Linked DNA regions of Homo sapiens. The protein of the gene in region 4 purifies or fractionates together with the protein of the main gene of each other region. This does not show direct contact. Each region holds a gene or a part of one and is shown on either strand. Other genes may lie near its edges.

Region 1 (4,125 bases), on a different chromosome or scaffold from region 4:
CCGAGCTGGCTGATGCGTGAGCCTCTGCCGGGACCACACTCACTTGTGATTAGACTGGTCTGCAAAGCAACAACTTCCTTCCTGAGACCCCCTCGGTATTTGACATGAGCTTCCTACTCCAGAAGAGCCATGCCAAGAAGGGTCTCAGCTGTGCCTCTTGGCAGGCTCGCCCCACCCTGTGGCTCTGCATGCCCCAGGCCTGCTATCACAGCAGTGAAAGAGCTGCCACAGGCGCTCAAGCCACTGAGGTCCAGGGTGCTGTGGCACAAGTCCCTGAGCATGAACTCATACGCCTGCAGGCCCGCCCCACTGCTGCCGGCACCAGGTCCCTGAGCGTGAACCCACACGCCTGCAAGCACACCCGACTGCTGCAGGCACCAAGTCCCTAAGCATGAACCCACACGCCTGCAGGCCCACCCCACTGCTGCCGGCACCAGGTCCCTGAGCGTGAACCCACACGCCTGCAGGCCCACCCCACTGCTGCAGGCACCAAGTCCCTAAGCATGAACCCACACGCCTGCAGGCCCACCCCACTGCTGCCGGCACCAGGTCCCTGAGCGTGAACCCACACGCCTGCAGGCCCACCCCACTGCTGCAGGCACCAAGTCCCTAAGCATGAACCCACACGCCTGCAGGCCCACCCCACTGCTGCCGGCACCAGGTGCTCTGCACTAAGTGCCAGTAGCCAGCAACACTAGGCGGCTCGCTCGTTTCACCTCCCTAATGACCCTATGAGGCAGGGATGAGCATCAGAACTGTTATCCAGAGGAGGCAACTGAGACACAGAGGGTGAGTCACGCACCTGGGCCACAGTGCCAGTGGGTAAAAGCTGCAAATGAAACTCAGGCAGTCTGGTTCCAGGGCTGGCATCCTTCATTGCTACACCTACCACCCTGGATGGGGGGACGCCTGTGTCCACACCCCACCGCCTATCAGAGAGTCACAAAGCTATGGGGGTGCACCTGTGCATGCATCGAAACAAATATCCATGGAGCGTGGACGACGTGCCAGGCACTGTGCCAGGCGCTGTGCCAGGGGAGACACAGCATGGCGAGCAAGCAGGTGCAATCCTTGCCTGCTGGGGCTTGGATCCAGTAGGGCTCACAGACACGCACGCACGCACACAAGCGTAATTACAAACTGTGACTGCATTACAGCTGTAATTACAAGTTTCCCAGGAAGGAAAAGTAGAGGGTATCAATGAGGGATTTTTGGTAATGGGGAGGAACTGATTTTGGATTGGGAGTGGGCGCTGGACCAGGAAGGTCTGATGTTTACGCTGAAATGTAAACGGTACCCAGGAATTCGCCAGGCAAAAAACTGCAGGAAGAGCATCAAGCTGATGGGAACAGCATGTGCAAAAGTCCAGAGGTGAGAAAAAGCCGGTCCCACTACACTGAGAGAGCCGGGTGGGCACAAAGCCTCCAACAGACTGGACGCCACCGAGGGACTGCACGGGCCTGGCTGTGGGTTCTAAAACGTATTTCAGTGTCAGAACACATACCCCATTTTGTTTTAGGAAAAAGGATCCCCGACGGTGTAGACAATGGGCCGCCAGGGGGGGTTCCAGACGCTGTGGCTGTGTTTTCAGTCAAGGGAGGCTCCTGCATTCCTTTAACAGGCTGGTTTCCTCTCATATCCACTGTGGTTCCCATCTTCCCCCAGCCACTACTTCTGGAACAGGCAAATAACCCTTCCATTGTTGTTTTGATTTTGTTGGTATCTTTTTTGTTTTGTTTTTTGAGATGGAGTCTCGCTCTGTCACCCAGGCTGGAGTGCAGTGTCGCCATCTCGGCTCACTGCAAGCTCCGCCTCCCGGGTTCACACCATTCTCCTGCCTCAGCCTCCCGAGTAGCTGGGCCTACAGGCGCCTGCCACCATGCCCAACTAATTTTTTGTATTTTTAGTAGAGATGGGGTTTCACTGTGTTAGCCAGGACGGTCTTGATCTCCTGACCTTGTGATCCCCCCGCCTCAGCCTCCCAAAGTGCTGGGATGACAGGCGTGAGCCACCACACCTGGCCAATTTTGTTGGTGTTTTTATCACTCTTAGCGTAGAAAAAAGGACACAGTAACAAAACAAGCAATATGCAAAAGCTACCAAACTCATACTATTTTTTAAAAAACGAAAAGCACAAGTCACTGTTGTCCCTGGTCTTGACTAAAATGGCTCCATGGCCAAAGTCCTCCACCTCACAGGGTGAGAGCTGGTGCTCGGTGGGGCCTCCAGACACTCATCACATCCGGTTCCCAAGCACTCCTTGGCTGGCCAGGTTTGTCTTCCACACGTGACTCTAGGAGGCCGGTTTACATCTCAGCGCAAGCTTGTGGACGTTCACTCTATTTGGTAGTAATAGTATCCCTCTACTTCAAGTAGGGAAATCTGCCAACACCACATTAACTGCTGCCCCCAAATAGGAGTCGACTTCCTCCGGGCTCTCAAAGGAGTCCCAGTATCAAACATGATTCTTGATGAACGCGGCTGCGTCAGAGTCGATTGTCTGAAGACATCCCAGGGAGACAAACGTTCCTCTCCTGGACCCTTCCTGTAGCTGTCTCCTGGCACCTCCCTTGGCCCCACACCTGCCTCAGGCAACTCCACCTCCTACTCCCATTAGAGTCGCAGTGTCTGCTGCCTAGGGCTCTCGCCTGCCTAGTACCAGCCAGGCCTTCCCCCACTCTCCATCTGACGAAGCCACTCATCACCCTCCATGGCCAGATCCAAAGCTCAGTTCTCAATTCCTGATTTTATTCAATACCAACCTTTGACGCAGCTGCCCACTCCATGCTTCCTGAAATTACTTCTTTACATGGCTTCCTGGACACCAACACCCCCACCCACAAGCACCTGCCTTGCAGAACTGTTCCTCCTAAGTCGTGCCCTCCTGAGGAAATTATTACTCTCTTTGCTTTCAGCTGAAAGCCCCGGAGTCGTACCTAACGCCTCTGGTCTGCTCGTACCCAATATCGCAGCACGTGAGCAAATCCTGTCTTCATGACCTTCAGAATCTTTCCAGAATGCAACCACTTCTTCACCACCCTTGCCTGGGCCCTGGCCACCCTCACCTCTCACAGAAGTACAGCCACTGCCTCCTGACTGGTCTCCTCCTACAGCACAAAGCAGAATCCTCCACGAGGGCGCCTGAGACAGCCTTCGAAAATGCAAGTGGGAGACTCTGGCTCTCACCAAACCCTGCAGCAGCTCCCCATTTAACTCAGAATACAAGTGAAAGCCCTTCCAGCGCCCAGTGGCCCTCACCCCTTAATGCCATCTCCTCTGCCCTGCCCTTGCCACTCTGGCCCCTGCTCTGACCATCCCCTGAATGTGCGCCCCATGGAGGACCCTGTCTGCTGCCCCCACAGCCTGTAATGTGCCCTCCCAGATGGCCAGCGGCCAGCCTGCCCCAGTGGCTCCCCCACCCGCTTCACTTCCCACCCCACGCCTGTTTATTCCTTCTTTTTTTTTTTTTTTTTTTTTTTTGAGGCAGAGTCTTGCTCTGTTGCCAGGCTGGAGTGCAGTAGCGCGATCTCAGTTCACTGCAACCTCCACCTCCAGGGTTCAAGCGATTCTCCTGCCTCAGCCTCCTGAGTAGCTGGGATTACAGGTGCCCGCCACCATGCCTGGCTAATTTTTGTATTTTTAGTAGAGACGGGGTTTCACTGTGTTAGTCAGGCTGGTCTTCAATTCCTGACTTCATGATCCGCCTGCCTTGGCCTCCCAAAGTGCTGGGATTACAGGCGTGAGCCACCGCACCCAGCCCTGTTTATTCTTTTCCTAAGGTACTCGTCACCATCGGCCATCGATCACTTCCTTTTCTCTCCTCCCTCTGGAAGGTTCCATGAGGGCAGAGCCTCGTACCTGCTCTGTCTCCAGTGCCTGTTAACAGCCTCTCATTCATAACAAGATCCTGGTAAATAGTTGTTGAATGAATAAATTTATGAAAGAACTTTAGATAACTGCATCTGAGGGTGCTGCCAATGGTGATAGTTCAAAGTTCTAAGAAAACAGAAACACAATCTGTATCATCAAAGAGTAGTGATGAAAAAATACTCCTGTGACAAACTGCATACCACAGAAACACATCGGAGAAACCCGAGCTCAGTGGAAACACACAGCTCTGACAGA
Region 2 (4,125 bases), on a different chromosome or scaffold from region 4:
CCCCACCCCAGCTGTAGTCCTGAGGTTTTCAGGTCTGGTAGGGAAATTGGGAGCCTGTGGGGGACTGAACCCCCTCTTGCTGACCATGAAAGTGTTTCTGAGGGGTGAACATGGAAGAGGCCCCATCAGGAGTCTGATCCTGTCTGGGGTCTGTGCACCGAGAAGCTGCACTCAGGGGTGGGCACCGTCCATGGCGTGCCCCCACGCTGGATGAGATGGTGGGGCTGGCCCCACACTGCTACAGGCTGCATACAGGCGCCCCATCGGACACACAGCCCTGTCTGGCTCCAAGCACGGCCTTCCAGTGTGGCTCTCCCCAGGTCTCTGAACACAAAAGACAGACCACAGAACAGACACCAGAGCTCCCCTGTCCCGAGGCCAGGCGACCCCCACAGGAAGTGGCTAATTTGATGCAACAGTGACATTTCCTCAGCACCCGCTGCGGGGAGGGAGGGTAACGTGGCCCCAGAGCTGTCCCTTCTCCTGGCACTGCATTCGATCTGCCTGGCCGAGTGCTCTCACCCCATTTCATCCACAGGGAAACTGGGCTTCATAGAAGCTACAGAGAAAGCACACAGGCCCTGCAACCCCAGGTCCCTGGATTCAGCATAGCCCTGCCCCCGGCTCAGCCCTCCAGAACCTCCACACACTTCCTGTGCCGGGGGAGGGATGGGGAGCTGATACAGGGCTGCGCCTCATCATGGGGCCAGGGACCACCTAGAGGCTAACTTGGGGGTGCCCTGGGGGGTGTCAGCAGCTGGGGCCCTCAGTGTTGTGGGGTGGCCACCAGGCACACCTGCGCTGCCCTCATTGGCACTACTGCAGAGAAACGCCTCTCTCCCCACATCTCAATGCTTCAGCAGTGTGGCCCTCTTGGGACCCCAGCCTTGGGAGCTGCTGGGGCAGATGGTCCCCTGCCTGGCCCCCCCTTGGGATGAGAGGCTCAGCCACAGTGGGCAATGGGATTGCTGCTGGATCTCCCAGGAGACGGTTGCCAGGCAGTGGGAGGATGCCGTGTCCTGCCCTCCAGGAAGCCGGCCGACGTCCACACCCGAAGGCGGCCTTTCCACCTCCACCCAGCCAGGGAGGTGCTGACCAGCCCGGCACACCCAGAAATGAGCCGCCATGGTCCAAAGCCACACCGGTGTGTCCACGGCTGCCCAGCAGCCAGCAATCTGGGCACTGCAGAGCATCAGGGGCGGGCACCCTCCCACTCCTTCAGCCATGCACAAGTGCCTACCGCCCCTGCAATGGCAGGAGGACTGCTGGGCCCTGCACCCCCACCCTCCAGGGGCAGGACCCAGGGCTGGCACCAGAGCCACTGAAACTGAATCAGCTCAGGGCGGTCTCATGGTCCCAGGGAGCTCATGTCACAGAGGGGTCCTCAGGGCCCAGTAGGGCTTACCCAAGATCACACAGGGAGGCGGAGACAGTCCAGTCACTTGGCAGGGCCTCATATTAACAGTCCCAGCACGGTACCCATGCTCTGTGCTCAGTGGGTTGTCTATAAACGTTAGGGAGCTTGGAAAAGCCACGCTCTGGGGCTCCCTGGGTCTGCCCTTGCCTGTGTGGGGCTGGGAATGGAGTGGAGGTGCTGACCCCACCGGCTGTGACTGCAGGCCCTGCCAGTACCCTCCTTATAGCTCAGAGGCCAACGGCAGAACAGACCTGTAGGGGCAGCTGACCATGCCCCCCGGGACCAGAGCTCCACAGGACCCATGCCCACGTCTGCACTTCCATCCACAGGGCCTCCCCTGGGCTCCCATGGCCTGGGGGCCATGTCAACCAGCCGCATCTTGGCCCCGGGCTGGTCAGACTCCTCCAGCGAGCCCTCCCTCTGCTCTCCACTTGCAGAGGCCTCCCCAGTCCCTGGCTGGAGTCACCCTCGCTCCCCCGACCCTGTGCTCCGGTGGGACATGACTCTAGGAGGGCCTGTCTGTACTGCACCCCACATCTGGGACTCACAGCCTCGCAGGGAAACTCCTCCTGGGGTGAGGAGCTGGGGACTGGAAGAGCAGGTCAATCCCAGACACGCATTACGCAGAGCCTAAACAGGTGTGACCTCCGCAGCCACCGGCCTGGCATGTCCACCCAGAGCTCGGGGCATCAGCGTACATCAAAGGGCTTCCAGGTCCAGATCACTTCCTCAGCGGCGCCAGAGCCACCCACTCCCACTTGCCAGATGAGAAAACGGAGGCAGAGCGAGATAAGCCCTGGCCAAACAGGATCTGGGCGAGGCAAGCCCGTCCCTCAGATGGCACTGCCCTGGTGCAGAGGGCTGATGCCCAGGGGCAGTGGGCAGGGGACGCCCATGCCCGGTGGGGAGAGGCTGCTAAGCACCAGGCACCCTTGCCCTTGGCGCCGCCTGCAGGGTGGTGAGGGAACACAGGCACTCAGCATCATCGTAAGTGAACTGTGAAGCCTGCTGGATGGTGAGAGACGCTGAGAAAAACAGAAAAGGCAGCACAGGAGCTGGAGTACCGGGGACTCTACGATTTTTTTTTTTTTTTTTTTGAGACAGAGTCTCGCTCTGTCGCCCAGGCTGGAGTGCAGTGGCGCCATCTCAGCTCACTGCAAGCTCCGCCTCCCGGGTTCACGCCATTCTCCTGCCTCAGCCTCCCAAGTAGCTGGGACTACAGGCACCCGCCACCAAGCCTGGCTAATTTTTTGTATTTTTAATAGAGACAGGGTTTCACTGTGTTAGCCAGGATGCTCTCGATTTCCTGACCTCATGATCTGCCCGCCTCGGCCTCCCAAAGTGCTGGGATTACAGGCGTGAACCACCGTGCCCAGCCTTTTCTTTTTGAGATGTAATTTCACTGGTGATGCCCAAGCTGGAGTGCAGTGGTGTGATCTCGACTCACTGAAACCTCCGCCTCCCAGGTTCAAGCCATTCTCCTGCCTCAGCCTCCCAAGTAGCTGGGATTACAGGTACCCGCCACCAATGCCTGGCTAATTTTGTATTTTCAGTAGAGATGGGTTTTCACCATGTTGGCCAGGCTGGTCTCAAACTCCTGACCTCAGGTGATCTGCCCGCCTTAGCTTCCCAAAGTGCTGGGATTACAGACGTGAGCCACCACACCCAGCCCAAGTCTACGATTTAAAAAAAAAAAAAAAAAAGAAAAGAAAAAAATTATTTTAGAGACAGGGTCTTGCTCTGTGGCCCAGGCTGGAGTGCAGTGGCACGATCACCACTCACTGAAGCCTCAACCTCCTGGGCTTAAGTGATCCTCCTGCCTCAGCCTCTCAAGTAGCTTGGACCACAGGCACATATCACCACGCCTGGCTAATTTTCTTTTTCTTTCTTTCTTTTTTTTTTTTTTTTTTTTTTGAGACAGAGTCTCTGTCACTGAGGCTGGAGTGCAGTGGCATGATCTCGGCTCACTGCAACCTCCACCTCTCAGGTTCAAGTGATTCTCCTACCTTAGCCTCCTGAGTAGCTGGGACTAGAGGCATGCACCAACACACTTGGCTAATTTTTGTATTTTTAGTAGAGACGGGGAGTTCACCACGTTGGCCAGCCTGGTCTTGAACTCCTGACCTTAGGTGATCTGCCATCTCGGTCCCCCAAAGTGCTGGGATTACAGGCATGAGTCACTGTGCTTGGCCTCTGCCCTAATTTTTAAAAAAATTTTTTGTAAAGACAGGGTCTGGCTATGTTGCCCAGGCTGGTCTTGAACTTCTGGGCTCAAGCAATCCACCTGCCTCGGCCTCCCAAAGTGCTGGATTACAGGTGTGAGCACCGCGATTGGCTGAGGCAGCTTTCTCTTGTTCTTGCCTGGATGGGGCCAGCTGCAAACGGAGCCTCGCTCCTCAGCCCCTGGGGGCCAGAGGCCAGGCTTCGGGGCCCCTGCCAGGACAGCCTCACTTGGCTTCCCCCAACTGAGGAAGGAGATGGCGCCTCCCTCAAAGGGAGCCCACTTGGGCTGCCCGGGTCCCAGCCCACCACTGCGAGCATGCAGAGCCTGGGTGTCAGGGTGCTCAGCAAACCGGGCAGCTGCTTCATCCCACGTCAGAGCCCCGGCACCCAACGCGCCAGGCCTGAGCCCAGCTGTCTGCGGGGAGCGTGCCGTGGCCAGCCTGGCCTCTGCACCCACTTCCCGAAGCCAGATTCCCAGCAGACGG
Region 3 (2,868 bases), on a different chromosome or scaffold from region 4:
TCAGCACTCAGAAGGAAATGTATAGAGTCAGCTAAGATCTTATGTAAACAAATATTTACATAAGATTAGGCTTTAATAAAAATGTGTAACTCCTCTAATTCAGGAATTTCACTTGAAGACCCAGTGAAGGATGAGGGCAAAGACGTGCACCTAGTTAGCACTTTGCACTTTAGAATGGTTAGGAGGGTTGATTTGTTATGTGTTTTTTACTACACTTTTTAAAAATCATGTAAAAAATAAAATTACATTTAATTTAATATAGTATTTACAGTATCCCATTTCAATTAAAATAATTAATGTACTACCCTTAAATTTCCCTTCTTAGGCAATTTTATACCTTAGAGTTAATTTTCATTTTTCTTTTGCTTCATTTGCGAAGTACCTCTCACTATTGTATCACAAACTGACAGAACTACAAATCCTTTTTGAATATAATCAATCACATCAGATAATCTATAGATGTTTCCCTTTTTCTTAAAAATATCCTTTCCGATGCTCTCTGTTCTCCACTCCATCCAAGCCTGGTGCCCAGCTGCCAACCTGAGAATTTCTTACATCATACTGGGAATTTTTCTTGTCTCTGTGTTGGACCCTTTATTTCCTAGATCCCAAGTCTTTTTCCTAGCTTCCTCATTTTTGTGGAGAACATTTTCCCCTACTTTCTTCAGAAACTGCATATAGAACATCAATTATTTTACTTCTTGTGTGACTAGAAACATCTTTATTTTACCCTCATAATGATAGTTTAGTTGAGTACAGAATTCTAGGTTGAAAATGATTTTCCTCAGAATTCAAAGGCTTTGTTCTGGCTCCCAAAGATGTTGTTGAAGAGCCTTATGCCATTTTGATTCCTGGTCCATCATGTAAATTGTTTCTCCTGTAATTCATTTAAGGTCTTTTTCAGTTTTAAGGGAAAAAAAGGCCTTGGAGAAAGTGATGTCAGCAAGATGACAGAATAGGAAGCCCTGGACACTCCTTCCCTCTACAGACACACTGATTCAATAACACATGGAAAAATTCCCTTTGTGGGAAATCCAGAAACCAGTTGAGGGTCTTCTGCACTATAGGAAAGCATGAAACCAGCTGAATCAAAGTCGGCAGAAAAACCTGAGGCACCCTCTTGCCATAATTCTTCCCTTCCCATGGACCCAGCACAGTACCACATGATAGAGAGGAAACCCTCAGCTCCCAGCTTCTTTTTGCAGAGGGAAGGAAATGACTGGAATGTACATCCAACATTCTGACTTTTCTGGAACCTGCACGAGAGACTGTTTTCTGTCTTGCCTGAGTCCGAGAGCTAAAAACAAAGGGCCCAGGTTGGAAGTTGCTGAAATCAAAGTGGAAGTTTGGACTAGCAAGCATGAGCTCACTACAGCCGCTCCCCCAGCTCAGTGCAGAGTAAGCAGGTAGAATCCCCAACATCCCCAAATCCTAGCTTTTCCCTAGGGAGGAGAGATGGACTGTGAAAATGTTCCAACTTTGTAAGAGGTTACCTGAGGGAATGGTTTCTGTAGGGAATGGTTTGAAGCACAGATGGGACCAGTATATTTTAGGTGCCTGGGGCCAGTATGAACAAAAAAAGAGCTGGGCTATGCCACTGGCTCCAGGAGACCCATGATACAGCAGATAAACACAAAAGGGAGCAAGAGATTATAAATTCCTGGGGAGGGAAAAACCCAGCAAATCCCTCTGATTGGGAATACATATGCAGAAGTCCAGAAAAGACATAATACAGAGTGGGTTAGAGAGGCTATCAGAATGATTGATGAGGGTGTTCTCCTGTACAATGCCAGTCCATGAACACTGGAAAGGTAACTGTTTTTTTTTCTAATGCAATGAAACCAACACAAAGAATTAAGGAAAATAGAGAATCAGTGAAACATGGCCCAAACAAAGGAAGAAGATAAATCTCTGGAAACCAACCCCAGTGAAACAGAGGTATAGGAATTATTTGAAAGAGAATGCAAAACAACTATCATGAAGATGTTCAACGAACTCAGGAGAACAATGCATGAACAAAGTAAGAATTTCAATAAAAATATACAAAACATTTTTAAAAATATGCCAAGAAACTGGATAACCTAGAACAAAATATATAATTCCTAGAAGTATACAATCTACCAAGACTGAATCATCAAGGAATAGAAAATCCGGGGGGGGAACACACAACCTGGTAAGACCTACAACAAGATTCCATCAGTAATCAAAAACATCCCAACAAAAAAACAGCCCAGGACCAGATGGCTTCTTTAGTTGAGTCCTACCAGGTACTTAAAGACAAAGTAACACTAATCCTTCTTAAACGCTTTCAAAAAAATTAAAGACGAAAACATTTATTTGGAAGGAACTTCCAAACTTATTCTATGAGGCCAGCATTACCCTAATGCCAAAGCCAAAGACATGACAAGAAGAGAAACGACAGGCCAATATCCCTGATGAGCAGACGCAAAAATCTTCAATGAAACAATGGAAAACAGAATTTAACGGCACGTTGAAAGAATCACATACTATGACCAAGTGGAACAAAATAGAAAGCCCAGAAATAAAACTACACATACATGGTCAACTGATCTTCGAAAAGAGAGACAACACTACACAGTGGGGAAACTGACAGTTTCCTCAACAAATGGTGCTGGAAAAACTAGATATTCACATGAGAAAGAATGAAAGTAACTCATCTTCACTATACACAAAAATCAACTCAAAATAGATTAAAGACTTAGACAAGTCAAAATAGATTAAAGAATTAGACATAAGATTTGAAACCACAAAACTCCTAGAAGACAACCTAAGTTTCTTGAAATTGGTCTTAGCAGTGATTTCTTGTCTAAGACACCAAAAGCACAAAACAAGAGCAAAACAGACCAA
Region 4 (4,125 bases):
GAGACCTGGATTTCAGTGCTTTGACATTCACCCTGAGGGAGGAACCCAGCAAAGCTATGATTGCCAACAGCACCCCTCAAGGGCTATTCCTCCAAATTTCTATGAGACCTTGAACCCTCAAACCACCTTCCCCAGTCTCGGTCTCCTCATCTGTAAAAAGGACTCTGCCTTTACTGTGACGCTGAGGGAATGTGGGGCACCTGCATGGGTGACTGGCCCAGCACATCCTCAGAAAGGTGGCCACAGGGTGCCACGGCTACTTTCCATGGAATATGGGAGTCAGGGCCACAGGGGTCCCATCTTCTTCCCATTTAGATGGCGCCAGACTCCTCTGACAAGAGCAGGTCATTACTGAGGTGCAGTTTCCTTCTTATCTGGGGCTGCTTTGCAGAGTTGGCTATTATCCAAGATCCCAAATGATAAAAGCAAATGACTGGCAAGCTCAGAAGCAGCCCTGGCTCTGCTGCCTTCATCTACTTCTGTTTCCACAGCCTCAGGGATTGAAAGGTGAATTTAATGCAGGAGAAACTGAAGAGTCTACTTTTTGTCAGAATAATAGTTACTTCACCAGGACCAAATTAATTACTTTTTTGTTGTTATGGATATAGGTGCAATTAGGTAACTATACATATGTAATACTAATGAATCATTAGCATATCATAAATAATTTAGTTGATAAACTGTTTCAACCACCACTCTCCATAGATCATGGAAACCCACAATGTACTGTGAGGCAGTTTGTTAGCCCGCCTGCTAGGAAGTCTGGATTTCAATTATCTACATGTAAAACCCAGGCTTTCCCTTGGAGAAGAGCAAAATCAAAGCCCTTAGGTAATTTTATAAGGCATTTATGAATGTTACAAAAGCATGGGAAATTAATTTGATTCTACACTTAATTACATTCGGCTGTAAAAGAAAAAAAGATTCTCTGGATTATGATTTGACTCACTGATTTTTTTTTTTTTTTTTAAGACAGAGTCTCGCTCTGTTGCCCAGGCTGGAGTGCAATGGCGTGATCTTGGCTCACTGCAACCTCCACCTCCCAGGCTCAAGCGACTCTCGTGCCTCAGCCTCCCACGTAGCTGGGATTACATGCGCATGCCACCACACCTAGCTATTTTTGTATTTTTAGTAGAGATGGGGTTTTGCCATGTTGGGCAGGCTGGTCTTGAAATCCTGGCCTTGGCCAGGTGATCCGCCCGCCTCTGCCTCCCAAAGTGCTGGGATTACAGGCGTGAGCTACCACGCCCAGACTGACTCACTAATTTTTGCTCAGCTCTTGGTCTCTTTCAGGGGAATGTATACTGTTACGTGTTTTCATAAGGTCTACATAATGTTATGCAAGAAATACAACTAATGTGCCCACCATGGGTTTTTTAAAAGCAAATTACATGAATTCTCCCTTTGCCTCATTTGTCTGAGTTTTAGAACAGGCATATGGAACTAAGCACACCCTAGTTAAAGATGGTTAAAAATCCTTAGCTGTTTATAACACCACATTTTCCTCTGTCTCCACAACATACCCCAAAGCATAGCTGCCTCTTTGCATTTGCAAAACCCTCTGTGCTGGACAACAACCTACCCAGCAATGCGCATTGCCAGGCAGAGATCTTACCCTGGGAAACCACACAGATAAATCCTTCCCCCACAGTGGATCCTTCCCACACCCCCTAAAAAGGGAAGATGAGTGTGTGTTTTGAGGAGCCAGAGGAGCACGGCTGTACTCACTGTGAAGTCTGTGGGTGTCATGGTGGGTCAGTCAGATGCAAGCCTGCTCCTGGAAAAGGGACAAAAATCAAAAAGTGGACTGGCTTGTAAACGAATAGTAACAACCAAATGCCAAAAAGATGGAGATTAAATTTTAAATCTGCTTATTCTTCTGAAAAAAATATTCCAAGCAGGAGTTAGAGTCTATATAGTATTCTAGATTTCAGAATCATCTGAGTAGTCCACACAGAAATGAATGAACCTCTCCTTTGAAGTTATCATTCACTTCTTTGACTCTGAGGGTCACCTGATTCTAGCATTTGTTTTCTTTCTACTTAGACAATAATTAGTACATCTCCCATCCACAAATGAGGAATGGCAGGTGGGCTGTTACATTTTTCCCAGCTCATCCTTTCTACATTAGCTCCCTTTCCCTTGATTCAGCTTGTCTGTCAAGTCCTGTTTTGCTGACTGGTTCCCCTTCCCCCTGCTCTATCAGCTAAGGGACTCACCGAAGCTAACAGGACAGTGGTCGCTTTGAGAATGCCCTGGGCTCTGGACTCCCCAGGAAAAGGGCCTTTGAGTAACCAGGTGGCAAGAAGAACATGAGGGCTGGGTGGTGCCCACTGGGGTTGGGGCCCCTCCCTAAAAGACCCGGTGCCCCCAGAACCCACCTTTCTCCTCTTTACCCTGACTTCAGCAGGAAAAGGAAGTCCTAGGTTTGTGTACTGAAGAAAATGAGTTCTAGTTCCCTAATGCACAGGGCCTCGGAACTGACTGAAATAAATCTCGAGTTGTCATTTTCATGTGTTTTGAATTTCTTTAAAGCCCACCCCTACATAACCAAAGAAACAACAGCTTGACTGCCTTCGAGGACGAAGTCTGTGCCTGAGCTGGGGCATTTCCTTTTATACCCTTAGCGAGTACATTTCAAGGAAACCTGTCCAGCATCACACCCCAAGGTTCTCGAAAAAAATAGCCTCTTTCATAAATCCTATAAAGCCAACCTGTTGGCTTCCTTTCCATAACAACATCATGACCCCACCCTGCTTTTCTGAAAGTACAGTGGTTTCCAATGCATAATGTGTGGTAAAACCACTTTGGAAAACTGGCAGTTTCTTAAGACGTTATACATGCACTCACCATGTGATCCAGTCATCCCACTCCTAAGTATTCACCCAAGAAAATTGTAAGTATATGTCCCCATAAAGACTAGTATGTGAGTGTTTATTACAGCTTTACTCTGTGGTAGGCAAAAACTGCTAACAGCCTAAATGTCCATCAAGTAGTAAATGGATAAGTTAACTGTGAAATATCCGTCCAATGGAATAGGGAATGAATGACCGATTCACACAGCAACATGGACAAGTCTCCAAACAATTATGCCAAGTAGCCAGACCAAAGGGAGTTCATACTGTATGATTTCACTTGTATAAAACTCTAAATAATGCAAACTAATCTATACTGACGGAAAGCAGAATCACTGATGTCCTGGCAATAGAGAGAGAGAGAAGGGGAGGTGGCTGGGCATGGTGGCTTACGCCTATAATCCCAGCACTTTGGGAGGCCAAGGTGGGTAGATCACCTGAGGTTGGGAGTTCGAGACCAGTCTGGCCAACATGGTGAAACCCCATTTCTATAAAAATACAAAAAATTAGCCAGGTGTGGTGGTGTGCGCCTGTAGTCTCAGCTACTCAGGAGGCTGAGGCAGGAGGATCACTTGAACCTGGGAGGCAGAGGTTGCAGTGAGCCAAGATTGCACCACTGCACTCCAGCCTGGGTGACAGAGCAAGACTCCATCTCAAACAAAAAAAAAAAGAGAGAGAGAGAGAGGGAAGGGGAGTGTGGGAGGGCAGGAGGGCAGGTGGGTACAAAGGAAACCTCAGTGGGGGATAAATATGTTCACTGTCTGGGTTGTGTGAGAGCTTCGCAAGGGTGTATGTACGTCAGAACTTACATTCTGCATTTTAATATTTGCAGTTTATTATAATTGGACCTCAATAAAGCTGTTCAAGTAAGGCAGGAAAAAGCAAAGTACGATGAAAACCTTCTGGCACTTCACTTCTCAGTGTCATCTCCGGCTGTCAGCAGGCCCTGAGGAGGAAAGCAACCAGAACTTCCTCCTGGTAACCTCTCTGCTGGTAGCTTTTCAAAAGTGCACTGGAGTGCCTTGTGCTGTTGTAGCCAACTTGAGAGATCACTACGGACCCACGTGGGTTTTTTTTGTTTTGGTTTGTTTTTGTGGGTTTTTTCCTTTTATTTTAGCTTCAGGGGTATATGTGCAGGTTTGTCATATAGGTAAATTGCGCGTCATGGGGGCTTGGTGTATAGATTATTTCGCCACCCAGGTTAATAAGCATAGTACCTGACTGGTAGATAGTTTTTTTATCCTCACCCTCCTACCTCCCTCCATCCTCA
Region 5 (4,125 bases), on a different chromosome or scaffold from region 4:
TAATTGTTTTAGATTACACAAATAAGTGAGATCATGTGGTATTTGTCTTTCTGTGCTTGGCTTATTTCACTTACCATAATGTCCTCCACGATCATCCATATTGTTGCAAATGACACAATTTCTTCCTTTTTAAAGGCTGAATAGTATTTTTTTGTATATATATGCCACATTTTCTTTATCCATTCATCCATGGATGGACACTTAGGTTGATCGAATCACTTGGTTATTGTGACTTGTCTGCAATGAACATAGAGTGCAGACTTCTCTTTGACATACGGATTTCAAATCTTCTGGATAAATAGCCAGAAGTGGGATTGTTGGATCAGGAGATAATATCTTAGCTGATACCTTTTAAATAACTCTCAGTATCTTTACTGAGAGGTTAAAAAATAAGTGACTTCTTAGGTAATATAAAGCTAAAGGTGACTAGTGTTTGATTCCATTATCTATTAAAAAAAGTCAGAATTGAAAGAAAGTTGAGAAATCCTTTGGTCTGACTTTGTAGATTAGGGAACAACTGCTGGGGTAGGATTATTTTGTGTTACTTTTTGAATTTTGTGTTTATTATTTTGAGTGTATTTTTTGGGTTGTCATTCCATTACAGGAAAGTATTATTTGGGCATGTTAACTTTGACATGTAAACTTAGAATTGTGAATAGAACTCATCTTTTAACATAATTTTATGTTTCTAAACTTTAAAAGTAGCTATAAGTGAACAAATTACTTTCCCCTCAATGTCAAATTTTGCTTCTCTGAGTTTTAAGTGATGAGTCTACATTTACAAATATAAAATTGTGTGCAGGTGAAAATTACAAGTATAATTTGAGTAATAAATGCAGGCCATTTTTTGGTTGTACTCTAGTACTCAGAAAATAGATCGGCATTAGTTATAACAGTGATTGTAGAAAAACGTGTTTTACCCAGACTTCTTAAAAATTAGATGAGAGAGGACACTCAAAGAAATTATACTTTTGTCATTAATTTACTATAGTGGAGAACTAAATCTGGGAAGTCAAAATTGAAAAAAGAATGTGTAATTTAGGGAAAGTAACTTTTTGTCTGATAATATTAATGCAAGGATTTTGTATTTAGGAATACTTCTGAGAGGAGAAGCTTCCACTCTGATCTAGTCTGGCAAAATTGAGGAAAATATTCTACCCTGTAATTAAAGAAGACTGCTCTTTGGAGGGATCACTGTTCTATATCTTTTTTTGTTTGTTTTTGTCTTTGAGGAGAAGTCTCGCTCTTGTCCCCCAGGCTGGAATGCAATGGCGCGATCTTGGCTCACTGAAACCTCCACCTCCTGGGTTCAAGCAGTTCTCCTGCCTCAGCCTCCCGAGTAGCTGAGATTATAGGCGCCCACCACCAAGCCTGGCTAATTTTTTCTATTTTTAGTAGAGCCGGGGTTTCACCGTGTTAGCCAGGCTGGTCTCGAACTCCTGACCTCAGGTAATCCACCTGCCTCGCCTCCCAAAGTGCTGGGATTACAGGCGTGAGCCACTGTGCCCAGCTCTTCTAGTTCATTTTTAAGTGTTGAGTCCCTGCTGTTTAAGAGATGTTTTGGTGAAAATCTACATTCAGAGAGAAACAGGTTAATCTTCCACATTTTTTATAAAATACATAAAATATAGTACTTGGCATTTTAAGAAAAGAATGCCATGTATTAAAAGGTGCTATTTTCAACTATTTATTATTTTAAAACAGGAATGCTTATCAATACTTTCGAATTTAAGATAAATGTCTTCGTTAAATTTTCTAGGCAGTTCAAAGATGGCCATTTGCTGGTGAATTTTCCAAAATAGATAACAGATAAAATGATTATGTAAGAACTTGGCACAACAGATCATTTTGCCTTTAGTCGTTCAAGAAATGATACTAAACTCAAAGTCATTCACTTGAAACAACTGAGAAGACCATTCTTAGGTGTTTAGATCCTTGCTTTTAGAAACATTCTTAGTTATATTTGTGTTTTCAAAAGTTATTGAGTAGATAGATATTTTTTCATGAATTTTTAAACATTAGACTTAGCTGAATTGATTAAAATTAGGTGATTATGAAAAAAATATTGCCCTGCTCGAGGGCATCTGGAGCCCTACAGTTACCATTACTAAAGTCTGTGAGTATGTCTATTTTGAAAAGTGTCATAAAAATATCTAGTCCATAAATCATTATAGGTTCAGTAATACATCATTTTGAACTGATTCTATCTTCTGTGAAATTCTAGAGATATGTTATCTTTAGGTAGCATGAGTAAGATTCAGGTATGCTGTGAATTTTGTTAACGTTTATGTTTTCCATTAATGGATAGTCAGGAATCTTTTGAACTGCGTCTATGTATTTAAATGATTTGGAAAGATAGCATCTCTCAGTTTAAACTTAGCATCTCATTTTGGCAAGATAAATTATTTTAGCTGTCTGGCCTTTTCTTTGTCTTCTTAGAGTTATTTCTGAAATGTGCATAGCCAGTCATAAAATAACTTGTGTAAATAGCCTAATGTAATTTATTTCTAATAAATACGTAGCTTAATGAAATGTATTTCTAGTTTGAACTTAATTGCCACTTGGCTTGATATTATTTTCCTTAGAATTGTTGGAAGAGAGGAGAGAGGAAGGGATCTACCATTTTTATTTATACCACCTAAATAGTGGACTGTTATTTTGGACTCACTTTTAAATAAAATATTTATTCACATGAAGAAATAAATTTTGTGTTTATTAGGTTAGCAAGCGTTTATTATCTTTGAAGTAATTGGAATTTCATTAAAAAGTGAAGCAAGTAAGAATTGTGATATAAATTTGAAAATTTTTAAATGGAAATTGAAATATGACTTAGGAACTGTGGGCTTGTAGAAAAAAACATTTAACATGGGAGTTAAGATTTTTATATTTGGTTGTGGCTCTGGGATCAATAAGGCAAGTGGTTTAGTCTTTAGTCCTCATTTCAAATGAGAATAGTATTTGTCCTAACTCTAGTCAGTGTCTGATTGGTATGTGTATAACCTTATTTTAAAAAGGATTCATTCCTGCCATATACTCATAATATTTATAAGTATGTCATATGATAAATATTGAGTAAATATATACTGAATGAAGTTTTTAGTATAGAGTGAAGTGAATAGAAAAAACATCCTACATAACCGTGGCTAATTTTAGGAAGTAAATCATGTTTCATAATAAGAGTCATCCTAAACATTTTTCTGTGTAATTTTCTGACCCAGTGTTAACAATTTTTATTTGCCTTAGTGCAAGCTTGTTCAACCCACAGGCCACATGCAGCCCAGGATGGCTTTGAATGCGGCCCCAACACAAATTTTGTAAGCTTTCTTAAAACATGATGAGATATTTTGTGATTTTATTTTATTTTATTTTATTTATTATTTTATTTTATTTTATTTTATTTTTTAGCTCATCAGCTATCATTAGTGTTCGTGTATTTTATGTGTGGCCCAAGATGGTTCTTCCAGTGTGGCCCAGGGAAGCCAAAAGATTGGAGACCCCTGCTAGCATTTAATGCTTATACATGTATTTACTTGTAAACATGTTGTTTCTTTGATAGGATATGATTTCAACATAATTACTGTTTATTTAAAATAAGAAAAACAAATAACTTTCAACCATTAAAAGGTTATAACACTTTAAAGGAAAGTTTCTTATTAAAGAAACTTTATACCCTATTAAGGGTATAATTTCAAAATAATTGCTTTTTATTTAAAATAAGAAAATATTCTTATTTCTATTTAAAATAAGAAAAATCAGTAACCTTCAACGAATAACAGGTTAAAGAATTTAAAGGTAAAAGACATTTCAACTAATTACAAATACTTTGTTTTTTTTAGTTGGGCTACATTTTACCACTCTAGGAATAGCTGTTAATTATTTTTTATATAGGGCATTTTTATGTATTTAATGTTGACAACTGACGTTTCCAATATACAAAAACTTGTGTAACTGAGAAAATTATAATAAAAATAGAGATTGAGGACATATTTTTAACATATATCCATGAGTCAACACTAATATTTAATATTTGAGATTTGAAAAATTATTTCTAGGGTAAGAAATTCTGTCACAATATAATATCTCTATATTGTGCTTTTTTAAGAGATAAATTTTTGATGAATTTAA
Region 6 (4,125 bases), on a different chromosome or scaffold from region 4:
TTGGCCTGCATCCTCACACCCTGGGGTGGGGCTGGGTCCTCAGGAGGGGTGCTGAACGAGACCCCTCTCTCCCAGGAAGGCTCTCATATTCATTGGGTGACCCCCAGAGCACCAGACAGGCGGCACCCCTGGAGCCCTCCCATAGGACGTCAGCACCCAGCACCCCAAGGTGCAGTCCCTTGACTGATGGTGACGGTGACTGGTGCCATGGACAGGGCTCACCACGTGCCAGGTGCTAAGGACTGGTCAGGGAAGCTGCTTCCCTGAGGCCAAACAGCCTGGCATGGCAGAATCTGAAGGGACGCGGGGTCTGTGCCACACCATGGTGCCAGCTCGCCCTCCCTGGGAAGGAAGATCTGTGGCATGCACTTCAAGACCACCTCCTCCAGGCCCCTGCCCTGACACCGGGAAGGAACTGGCTCACAGCCATGCTCAGGAAACTGAAAAGGGCCCTGGGCTCCAGTCTGGAGCTCCTTCCAGTGCTCCGCCTAGATGCTGCCAAGGATCCATGTCAGCATGCTCCTCTCTGAGCCCTGGTCTCACCACGGACACCCCTCTCTTGACCCCGCCCGGCTGAGCATCTAACCGCAGCCACAGGAGGCTGAGCCACCACGTCTGTAGCACAGTGGTGGAGCCAGGTCTGCAGTCCTGCAGAGTCAGGGCCAGCTCTGCACTCAGGGAGTGAGGGCTGTGAATTCTGGTCCATGTGCACCCTACCCCATCCCAGAGCTCCCCCACATCCCAGAGCTCCCCCACATCCCAGAGCTCTGGCACACTCCATAGCCTCACCCCACCCACCCCTGCCCATCAGAATGACCCCTGTCCCAACTGAGAAGAATGGGTCTGGAGACAGGGTTCTGGTGGGTTCTCGTGGGAGCAGTTGGGCCCAAGCCTCTCCTTAGACCAGGGAGGCCACACAGCACTGGTGCCAAGTGAGGCCTGCGCCCCCTGCTGCATGACACTGGGGAGGACAGCCTTCTTGTGCCTCATTTCTCACTGGACCCCAGCCAAGCCAGCTCCTAGGCAGAAGGGTCCCGTCTCCCAGCGACAGCTGGTAGATGGCTGGCTGGGGTCGGCACCAGCTCCTGTGCCCGTATGACACTGCATTCTTCCAGATGGTAGTTCTCAATAATGGCAAGAGCGTCCTTTTTTTTGGAACAGGGTGTCACTCTGTTGCCTAGGATGGAGTTCAGTGGTGTGATCATGGCTCACGGCAGCCTTGACCTTTCAGGCCCAAGCCTCCCGAGTAGCTGAGACCATAGGCACACGCTGCCATGCCCAGCTAATTCTTAAAAAAAATTGTGTAGAAACGAATCTCGCTTTGTTGCCCAGGCTGGTCTCAAACTCCGGGGCTTAGGTGATCCTCCCACCTTGGCCTCCCAAAGTGCTGGGATTACAGGCGAGAGCCACCACCAGGCCGGCAATAGCATCTTAATACCAGGAATACTACTACTCATTCCTCTTGCCGCCTGCGGGAGCTACAGGGCCGCAGGCCACTCCTTCAGACTGGGGTGCTCTGGGCAAGGAAGAAGTGGCCTGCAGGGCCTAGAAGATGAGAGTTGGGGCTGGAACCATCTGCCCCTTAGGAACCGTGTGACTGGGCAAGTGACATCCCTGAGCCTCTGGCTCCCACAGGGCTCAAGGAGCTACTGGGGAGGGTACCCAGGACAGTGCCTGGCATGTGGCTGCTTCTCCTCAAACGCTGGCCATCAGTATGGTCAGCCTTAGAACCTAGGGACCTTTGGGGGACAGTGCTCCTCCTTCCCACTTGGGCAGGCCCCGTCCACTCAGCCCTAAGCGGCCTCCCGCAGCAGGCAGCCTGCCGGGCAGGGTGGCGGGAGCAGCTCCGGGGCTTCCCTGCTCTTGGCTCTGGAGTTCCCCAGCCCTGCTTCCTGGCAGTATTGGCCTGGCCTCTGCCCCACCAGCGGGCCAGCCCCTCCCTCAGCTCCACACCCGGTGGGTGGGAATTTCTGGGTTGGGAGTTTTGGGGCCACTGCCCCTCCCCAGCTCACTAGGCCTCTGGAGAGTGGGGCTGAGAGACCCCAGGCAGGGGGAGGACATGTGGGGAGGGAGGGGAGGAGGAAGGGGGCAGGTCCTGTCCCCCACCCTGCACAGCCTCTCACTAGCCCTGGGGTCCTGTTCCTACCATTCTTGAAGGCCAGGAACTCGAAGACACTGTGAACGATAGACACGATGATGGTGAGCGCCAGCAGGTAGGGGTTGGTCTCCAGCAGGGCCACCTGCAGGGGACACATGTGAGCACAGCCTGTCCCCACCCAGGAGCACCTTCACTAGCTTTTGTCCCGAGGGCTGCCCCTGGGGCCGCCTGTAGAGGGAGGCTGAAGGTGGGCCAGCCAGGAGGAGACTGGGTCAGAGATGGGCAGATGGGGAGAGAGAGGAGGGTGACTCACAAAGACAGAAGAGACGGGGAGATGGCACTAGGGGAAGAGGCAGAGGCCAAGGGAGTGCTGCGGGGAGTGGGTGAAGGGACACTGGGAGCCAGGAGCAGAGACCCAACAGTGACGACAGCCCAGGAGGCAAAGCCGAGCCTCACGCCACAGACACAGGCTGACATTTCAGGACCCAGTGAGATGGCAGAGACACAGAGTTGGAGCCAGGGCCAGGGACACAAGGTCTGGGACAGAAGGAGGAAGGGACAGGTCTGGACCCAAAGGGTCCAACAGAACAGCCTGGGGAGAGGACCCCCAGTCATCTAGGGCTGGAGGGCTGGGTGCCCACTTCCTTTCACTGTGGAGAAGGGACCTGGGAGGTTGTGAAACTGTGGGCAGAGGAGCACCAGGCGGGAGGTCCCACAGCCCAGGCCTGGCACACTTCCTCTTGGCCTCTTGCGCCCAGGAAGGCACCGGGAAGTCCCGCCCACACCGGCCGCACTCACCTTCACCGAGTCCTGCTCCTCATCTGACTGCTCGTACAACTCATCACCCAGGAAGTTCCAGGGCGACTTGGTGCTCTGGGCAGCATAGAGCTGCCAGCGCCAAAGCGAGAGTGGGCAGAAGGAGACGCGGAGCGGCAGGCTGGCCAGGCTCTCGTTGATGGGGTAGTAGTCCTTCTGCAGGTTCCAGTAGTCATTGAAGTAGATGATGGGATAGTAGTCACCGCTCACGGCGTCGAACTTCACATCTGCAGCACGTGGGGCAGGGGCACCATTTGGCCCGGGCAGGAGGCCAGGGTACCCGCAGGCCTCAGATGTCTGGAGAGACCCAACAGGGCCCCTCTACAGAGACTGGAGGACAGGGGACATTTCTAGGCCACACCATGAGGAGCTAAAGGGTGCCTTGACCTCAGCAGAGGGGACTGAGGCAAAGGGCAGGCAGGTCCCCACTGAAGGGGGCAGCTGTGGCTCAGCTCCAGCCCACGGCTGCCCTGTGGGTGACCATGTAACCCAGTTTTATAAAATAAGCCAGAAATTGTGGCTTTTAAGTGATACTGCCTCAATTTCAAAAGCTGGCAAGTGATAAGACATTTTTTGAAAACAGTTTGTGGGCTGGATGGCACTTGATTGCGGACCGATGCTGGCGTGTAGAAGTCAGTCCTGGGGTCCCCAGGGGTGGTGGTGTGGGAGAGGGAGAGGACATGGGAAGGGGATAGGACAGGGTGGGAGCTTGGGAGGGTGGAGCCCTGGAAAGCTCTCTCAGGGGGACAGGGCCAGGAGAAGACAAGGAGATGGACCCCGAGCACCCTCTCAAAGGCTCTGCAGGCAGCTGGCAGGGCTGGGGAGCTTACATTGATCCAGGGGAGGGGGCACACTGCCCTTCACCCACGGCGTGTGGTCGTCCACGATGTTGATGGTGATGTTGGGGTGCCAATGGGAGATCACCTCCACAGGCCCATAGTCCTCAGCCCTCTGAGGCAACATGGGGGGAAGGACCTCAGAGGCAGGTGGAAGTGCTCGGGGACTATCACTCTCTGTACACTTCCTCCCCAGGGTTCCCGAGAAAATCTTAATCTTTGCTTTCTTTTTTTTCTGAGATGGGGTCTCACTATGCTGCCCAAGCTGGTCTCGAATTCTGGGCTCAAGCACGATCCTCCCACCTCGGCCTCCCAAAGTGCTGGGATTAGAGGCGTGAGCCACCATGGACAGCTTCTTTTCTTTCTTTCTTTTTT
Region 7 (4,855 bases), on a different chromosome or scaffold from region 4:
AGGTACAACCACACCCCCAGCAAAGAATGACTGGCCTCCCTGGGCAAGGGAGAACCTGGCTTCAGGGAGGCCCAGGCCTTGGGCAGGGCAAGGCAGGGCAGGGCAGGGCAGGGCAGGGGTGAAGCAGGAGGGTGGGAGGAGCAGGGACATATCCGCCGCCAGGCTGCGGAAATGCTTCCTCATAAACGGCTAGAAAGGGAAGATGGAGTCAGGCAGCTTCAGCGAAGGCCTGGCCAGGGCAGCAGAGCCACAAGGGACACGGGCTTCTCTGGCCAAGCCTCACTCAGAAGGACTAACAGATGTGTGACTTGGGCAAATTCCTGCCATGCCACCAGGCAGGGAGGGGGACAGAGCCCGGCGGGCTGGACCTGGGGCAGGAGGAAGTGTGGTCATGTGAGTGGTATCCTGTCTCCCGGGCCAAGACGCCAGGCAGCGGCCAGACGTGTGTGTTGTGTGTTCAGGGAACCGTCTCCACTCTCCTCGCAGAGAGGAGTGGCCCAGGGACCACACACCCCACCCACGCCAGCAGCAGAGCACCCAGCCCCCTGCTCGCCCTCTGGCTGCCACAGGGCACAGGGGCCCATCCCATGCCCAATGCAGCTGCAGAGGCAAAGCCTCGGGGAGCCAGAGCCACTCTCCAGCATCCAAGGCACCACGGGCAGAGCGCAGGGACGTGTGTGCTGGGAGGGCCTGGCTGCAACCCAAGGGGTCGCCGCAGGATCCAAGAGTGCTCTGGTCCCAACTTAAAGGACTAAGGACCCCCCAACCTTGTCCAGAGAGGACCCAGCCTCCACCCTGCCTGGTGCAGCTGCCCAGAGGCAGAGAGCAGTGATTAAGTAACCAAGGACCCCACACCCCTACAGCCTCTGAGGGCCGAGCCCAAGATCCTTCCCAGCAGAGCACAGTCTGACCCCGCTCCAGGTTCTGCATAACTGGAGAGCACCTCCAGGTTAGCGGAAGCCATGGGCCTCCGCAGGGACACAGTTCCCACCTAGGGAAGGGGAAGTGGCAGGGCCAGTGCCCCCATACCGACAGCAACTGCGCCACCACCTCGGCGCCCCCCAGCCCTGGGATATCTGGCCCATCCCTCGCTGCCGCTGGTCTCTCACCTCTCCAAGTTCAGGGGTTTGGGCAGAGAAGAGCTAAGAGCTTCAGAGACACCTCACCAGACACCCCCACGTCCCAGGTGGGGAAACAAGCCCCGCTGTTCCTGGCAGGACCAGGACCGGAACCCGGCTCCTCCGGCAGGCTGGACACCGGGATGGCAGGGCATGGACAATGACACGCAGGCAGACCCTCTGCTCCTCCATGTTCTGAGTCCCCTCCATGTGCCTTCACACTCACACAGCTCTGCCAGCCCCCCAACCCGGTGCAGCTCCGGGAGAGAACTATGTCCCGAAGGCAGCCAGCGCCCCACCCTGCCCTCCCTCCACCTTCACTCCAAAGGCTAATGTTTCTGCTGGGTGGTGACCAACTGTGTCAAACTGACGTCCCAGTTAGGGTTTGTCACGGGGTCCCTGTGCAGGCAAGCAGCCACAACCTGCCCCCGAGGTCCCAGCCTCTTGTCCCCACCTCTAGGTTGCCCTTCCTTCCCAGGAAGTTGCCTGCTAAGGCTCTGAAATCACTCACTTCCCCGTGACTCCACTCTAGGCCTTACACACACACTTTTGAAATCAAGTCTAAGTCCAAACCAGGGTTTCTTAATTCCATCTCAGTGGCTTCAACTTCCTCCTCCGAGACACAGCTGAAAACCCTGTCCCGGCCAACTCTGCCCCTACTTTCTAAGCAATCTGAACACCCCCAGCTGCCAAGGGTTTATATTTAATTAATCCTTATTTAAATGTGAATCCTCAAAACCTCCACAAAACAAGCCTCTAGCTGCACCTCGGGGCCCTATAAAAACCAAAAAGCGTGTGCAGGTCCAATGCGAGGATATGAAAAAAATAACTCCTGCCTCAAAGAAACACGGGGTTTCCATCCTGGTCCAGCTCGTGGAAGAGCGTTTCAAGCCAACTTTGGATAAAGCAGCTCTTACGGCCGTCGCTTCTCCCACTGAGGTCTGTCCTGCTGGTGCACTTACTTCCAAATGCCCCTTCCGGGAAAATGAAACCTTCCACCACCTTCGACGATCAACTGCAGAGTAAACTTGCGGAAAGTGAAGGAAAAAGCAGACACCTGATTCCTTGCAAGTCCCAGAACAAAGACGAAAGGACCACGAGTCCCGTTGTTACCATTTCTACATCCCAATCACTTGGGGTGCAATGCCCCAAGATCTAGGAAAAGGAATCCACCCTTTTGCCCCCACAAAATGTGTTCAGAGCCAAGGGTGAGCGGACCCGCACTCTCCCACACCGCATTCGGGCAGCCTGTCTGTCCCTCCCATAAAGGGCTCTGGTCAAGATCCAAGTCAAGCCGGACCCACTCCCACAAGCAGAGCTGTGAGGTCCTGGGGGTTAGGGCGGGGGTCCTCAGAGCTTCCAGGGCCAGTCCCCAGGCTGCAGACCCACTCACCTGCAGACAGGACAGCCTCCTACGACCACGATAGAGTTGGCAGGATAGCGGGTGACGGTCCGGCTGTGGATGTTGTAGACCCTGGGATGGTGGGTGGGTATCCCTGTGGGCGGGAAAGCAGGTCATTAGGGTGCAGGGAGGAGAAATCGGACCGCCACGGGGACTACTCATCCTGTCCCCTCAACCTCCACCCCGCTAAAAAAGCCCCCGGTCTTTTCCACCCTCGGGACGGCCACCGCGGGCCTGATTCGGCGCTAATCTGCCAACAGCGAGCGCCTCGTGACACAAAGTTCATCTGGGGCAGGGATCCGGCCCCGCCGGGTTACGACGGGCCCGAGGACTAGAGCCCCGGGGGGGAGGCTGGCCCTCGGCGGCGCCGGGTCCCGAAGCCAGCCCGGGGACCTCCAGCTCCAGGAAGGACCCCCGGGCGGGCCCCACCCGCCTCCGGACCCACGTCCCCCGACCGGGCTTGCCACCTCGGAAGCCGCCGGCGGGGAAAGTTGGTTACGGGCCCACCTGTGACGAGGTAGGGGTAGGGCGGCGGCGGGGGCGCGGCGGGGATGGCGCCGTAGCCGTGCGGGCCGCACGCGTAGTCGCCCTGGCCGGCCTCCAGGTTGTAGGCGGGCGGCCGCTCCTGCAGCAGCGGCTTGTGGTCCATGGCGGCCCGGCCGCGCCCGCCGCTCCGGCCCGGCTCGGCTCGGTCGGCCCCGGCGGGGGACGCGGCGGCGGCGGCGGGGACGCGGCGGACCGGGTGGCTCGGGCCCCTCTGAGGCAGACGCGGGGCGGGGCGGGGCGGGCGCGAGCCGCGGGCTTCCCCCGCCCTCCCGGGCCCAGTCACAAGACCGGGGTCACGTGGGCGGCGGGAGGCGGGGCTCGGGGGCGGGGCCGGCGGGGCGTCTTAAAGGGGCCGCGCCCTCCCGAAGCCGCCCCGCCGGCGGCGCCTCTGCACTCCGCCCCGCCCCGCCGCCGCTGCTCTCTAGACCTCCCGTGGCGGGGAGACCCCCCCCCCCGCCCATCCCCCACGACGACCCAGAGACGCCCCATAGGGTCATGACCTTTAGGGCTCGCGGATGCACCCCCACCTCCCCCTACGCCCCGATCTCCCAGGCCGGCCGAGGTCCCCCTACCGGTGGAGGAGGGGGAGGGCGGGGCCTGAGAGGGGGCGGGGCCGGGTGGGTCCCAGGCCGCCCCAACGCCAGCCCTCTGCCCCTATGATCGCCAGCGCTTCCAGCAATACAAAGGGCACACCCGGGTGTGCACCTCAGCTGCGGCCTGCGCGGTGCTCAGCTGCGGCGCATTCCCTCCGTTTGCCTTTTTTTGGACAATTAGGTGATTGACGGGGGTAGTAGCCAGTGCTTACAAATAACTCCCCCGTTTGGGGACAAAACTATAAATACTGGGCACCTGCCGCGTCTCCTCAGTTTCCCTAATCTTCAGGCAGCCCTGCCAGGTGTTTTGCTTACCCCTGGAGGACAACACGGGATCGGGCTCAGAAGGGGGAGGGATTTGGCTGTGGCAGGTGCGGGTCAGAGCCCGTATCTAAACCTGGGTGTTTTCTGGCCTCGGGGACTGCGTCAGGCGCCCTCGTTGAAACATTTCCTCATACAAGGCTTCACGGGTTGGCCAGGACAACTTTAAAACGAACGATTGGAACGTTCAGGATTGCTTGCGTCCTTAGCGCCTCTGCACCTTTTCAGGGGCACCTGTATCCGTTACTGTATTCTGTCTCCAGTTTTCTCACCTGCATTTTGATATCACCTGCACTGTAGCTCTGGGACGACTACAGCTCTTCTCGAACCGCGCCTTTTTAATTTTTAAAAAAAAAATTTGTAGGGGGTGCTGGGGGGGCTCTCTTGCTCTGTCACCCAGGCTGCAGTAGAGTGACACAGTCATTGCTCAATGCAGTCTCGACCTCCTGGGCCCAAGCCATCCTCCCACCTCAGCCTCCTCAGTAGCTGGGGACCACAGGCACACGCCACCATGCCCAGCTAATTTTTAAAAATTTTTGTATGGGATCTTGCTATGTGCCCAGGCCAGTCTCAAACTGCTGGCCTCAACCAATCCTTTTGCATCAGCCTCCCAAAGTGCTGGAATTACAGATGTCAGCCCCTGCACCCGGCCTTATTTTTATTTTTTAATAAGGGATCATCATTCACATGTATATATACACACACATACATATATATATATATATATATATATATATCTTTTTTTTTTTTTTTTTTAACAGAGTCTCACTCTGTGGCCCAGGCTGGAGTGCAGTGATGCAACCCTGGCTCACTGCAACGTCGACCTCCGGGGCTCAAGTGATCCTCCCATCTCAGCTTCCTAAGTAGCTGGGGAC

Evidence for each region.
Region 1: the proteins of CCR9 (region 4) and PIGG purify together in Homo sapiens (co-immunoprecipitation; one large-scale study listed by IntAct). This does not show direct contact.
Region 2: the proteins of CCR9 (region 4) and TTYH3 purify together in Homo sapiens (co-immunoprecipitation; one large-scale study listed by IntAct). This does not show direct contact.
Region 3: the proteins of CCR9 (region 4) and TMEM87A purify together in Homo sapiens (co-immunoprecipitation; one large-scale study listed by IntAct). This does not show direct contact.
Region 5: the proteins of CCR9 (region 4) and ALG10B purify together in Homo sapiens (co-immunoprecipitation; one large-scale study listed by IntAct). This does not show direct contact.
Region 6: the proteins of CCR9 (region 4) and CLPTM1 purify together in Homo sapiens (co-immunoprecipitation; one large-scale study listed by IntAct). This does not show direct contact.
Region 7: the proteins of CCR9 (region 4) and BRI3 purify together in Homo sapiens (co-immunoprecipitation; one large-scale study listed by IntAct). This does not show direct contact.

What each region holds. Positions count from the first base shown.
Region 1 is NC_000004.12:516,210-520,334, reverse strand, and holds part of PIGG (GPI ethanolamine phosphate transferase 2, catalytic subunit), read right to left. Parts: intron 3,997-4,125; exon of another isoform or gene 3,899-3,996; coding exon of another isoform or gene 3,859-3,898; intron 1-3,858.
Region 2 is NC_000007.14:2,641,744-2,645,868, reverse strand, and holds part of TTYH3 (protein tweety homolog 3), read right to left. Parts: intron 1-4,125. UniProt on the Homo sapiens protein: Calcium-independent, swelling-dependent volume-regulated anion channel (VRAC-swell) which plays a pivotal role in the process of regulatory volume decrease (RVD) in the brain through the efflux of anions like chloride and organic osmolytes like glutamate.
Region 3 is NC_000015.10:42,211,973-42,214,840, forward strand, and holds part of TMEM87A (transmembrane protein 87A isoform 1 precursor), read right to left. Parts: intron 1-2,868. UniProt on the Homo sapiens protein: Potential monoatomic ion channel gated by mechanical force, implicated in normal touch sensitivity through the generation of mechanically activated currents.
Region 4 is NC_000003.12:45,892,558-45,896,682, reverse strand, and holds part of CCR9 (C-C chemokine receptor type 9), read right to left. Parts: intron 2,467-4,125; exon of another isoform or gene 2,382-2,466; intron 1,778-2,381; 5' UTR 1,750-1,777; coding exon 1,729-1,749; intron 1-1,728.
Region 5 is NC_000012.12:38,322,821-38,326,945, forward strand, and holds part of ALG10B (dol-P-Glc:Glc(2)Man(9)GlcNAc(2)-PP-Dol alpha-1,2-glucosyltransferase), read left to right. Parts: 3' UTR 1-1,092; coding exon of another isoform or gene 1,093-1,104; 3' UTR 1,105-4,125. UniProt on the Homo sapiens protein: Dol-P-Glc:Glc(2)Man(9)GlcNAc(2)-PP-Dol alpha-1,2-glucosyltransferase that operates in the biosynthetic pathway of dolichol-linked oligosaccharides, the glycan precursors employed in protein asparagine (N)-glycosylation.
Region 6 is NC_000019.10:44,986,195-44,990,319, reverse strand, and holds part of CLPTM1 (putative lipid scramblase CLPTM1), read right to left. Parts: intron 3,866-4,125; coding exon 3,745-3,865; intron 3,142-3,744; coding exon 2,897-3,141; intron 2,241-2,896; coding exon 2,147-2,240; intron 1-2,146. UniProt on the Homo sapiens protein: Involved in GABAergic but not glutamatergic transmission. Binds and traps GABAA receptors in the endoplasmic reticulum (ER).
Region 7 is NC_000007.14:98,280,110-98,284,964, reverse strand, and holds the start of BRI3 (membrane protein BRI3), read right to left. Parts: upstream 3,280-4,855; 5' UTR 3,170-3,279; coding exon 3,028-3,169; coding exon of another isoform or gene 2,988-3,027; intron 2,615-2,987; coding exon 2,512-2,614; intron 1-2,511. UniProt on the Homo sapiens protein: Participates in tumor necrosis factor-alpha (TNF)-induced cell death. May be a target of Wnt/beta-catenin signaling in the liver.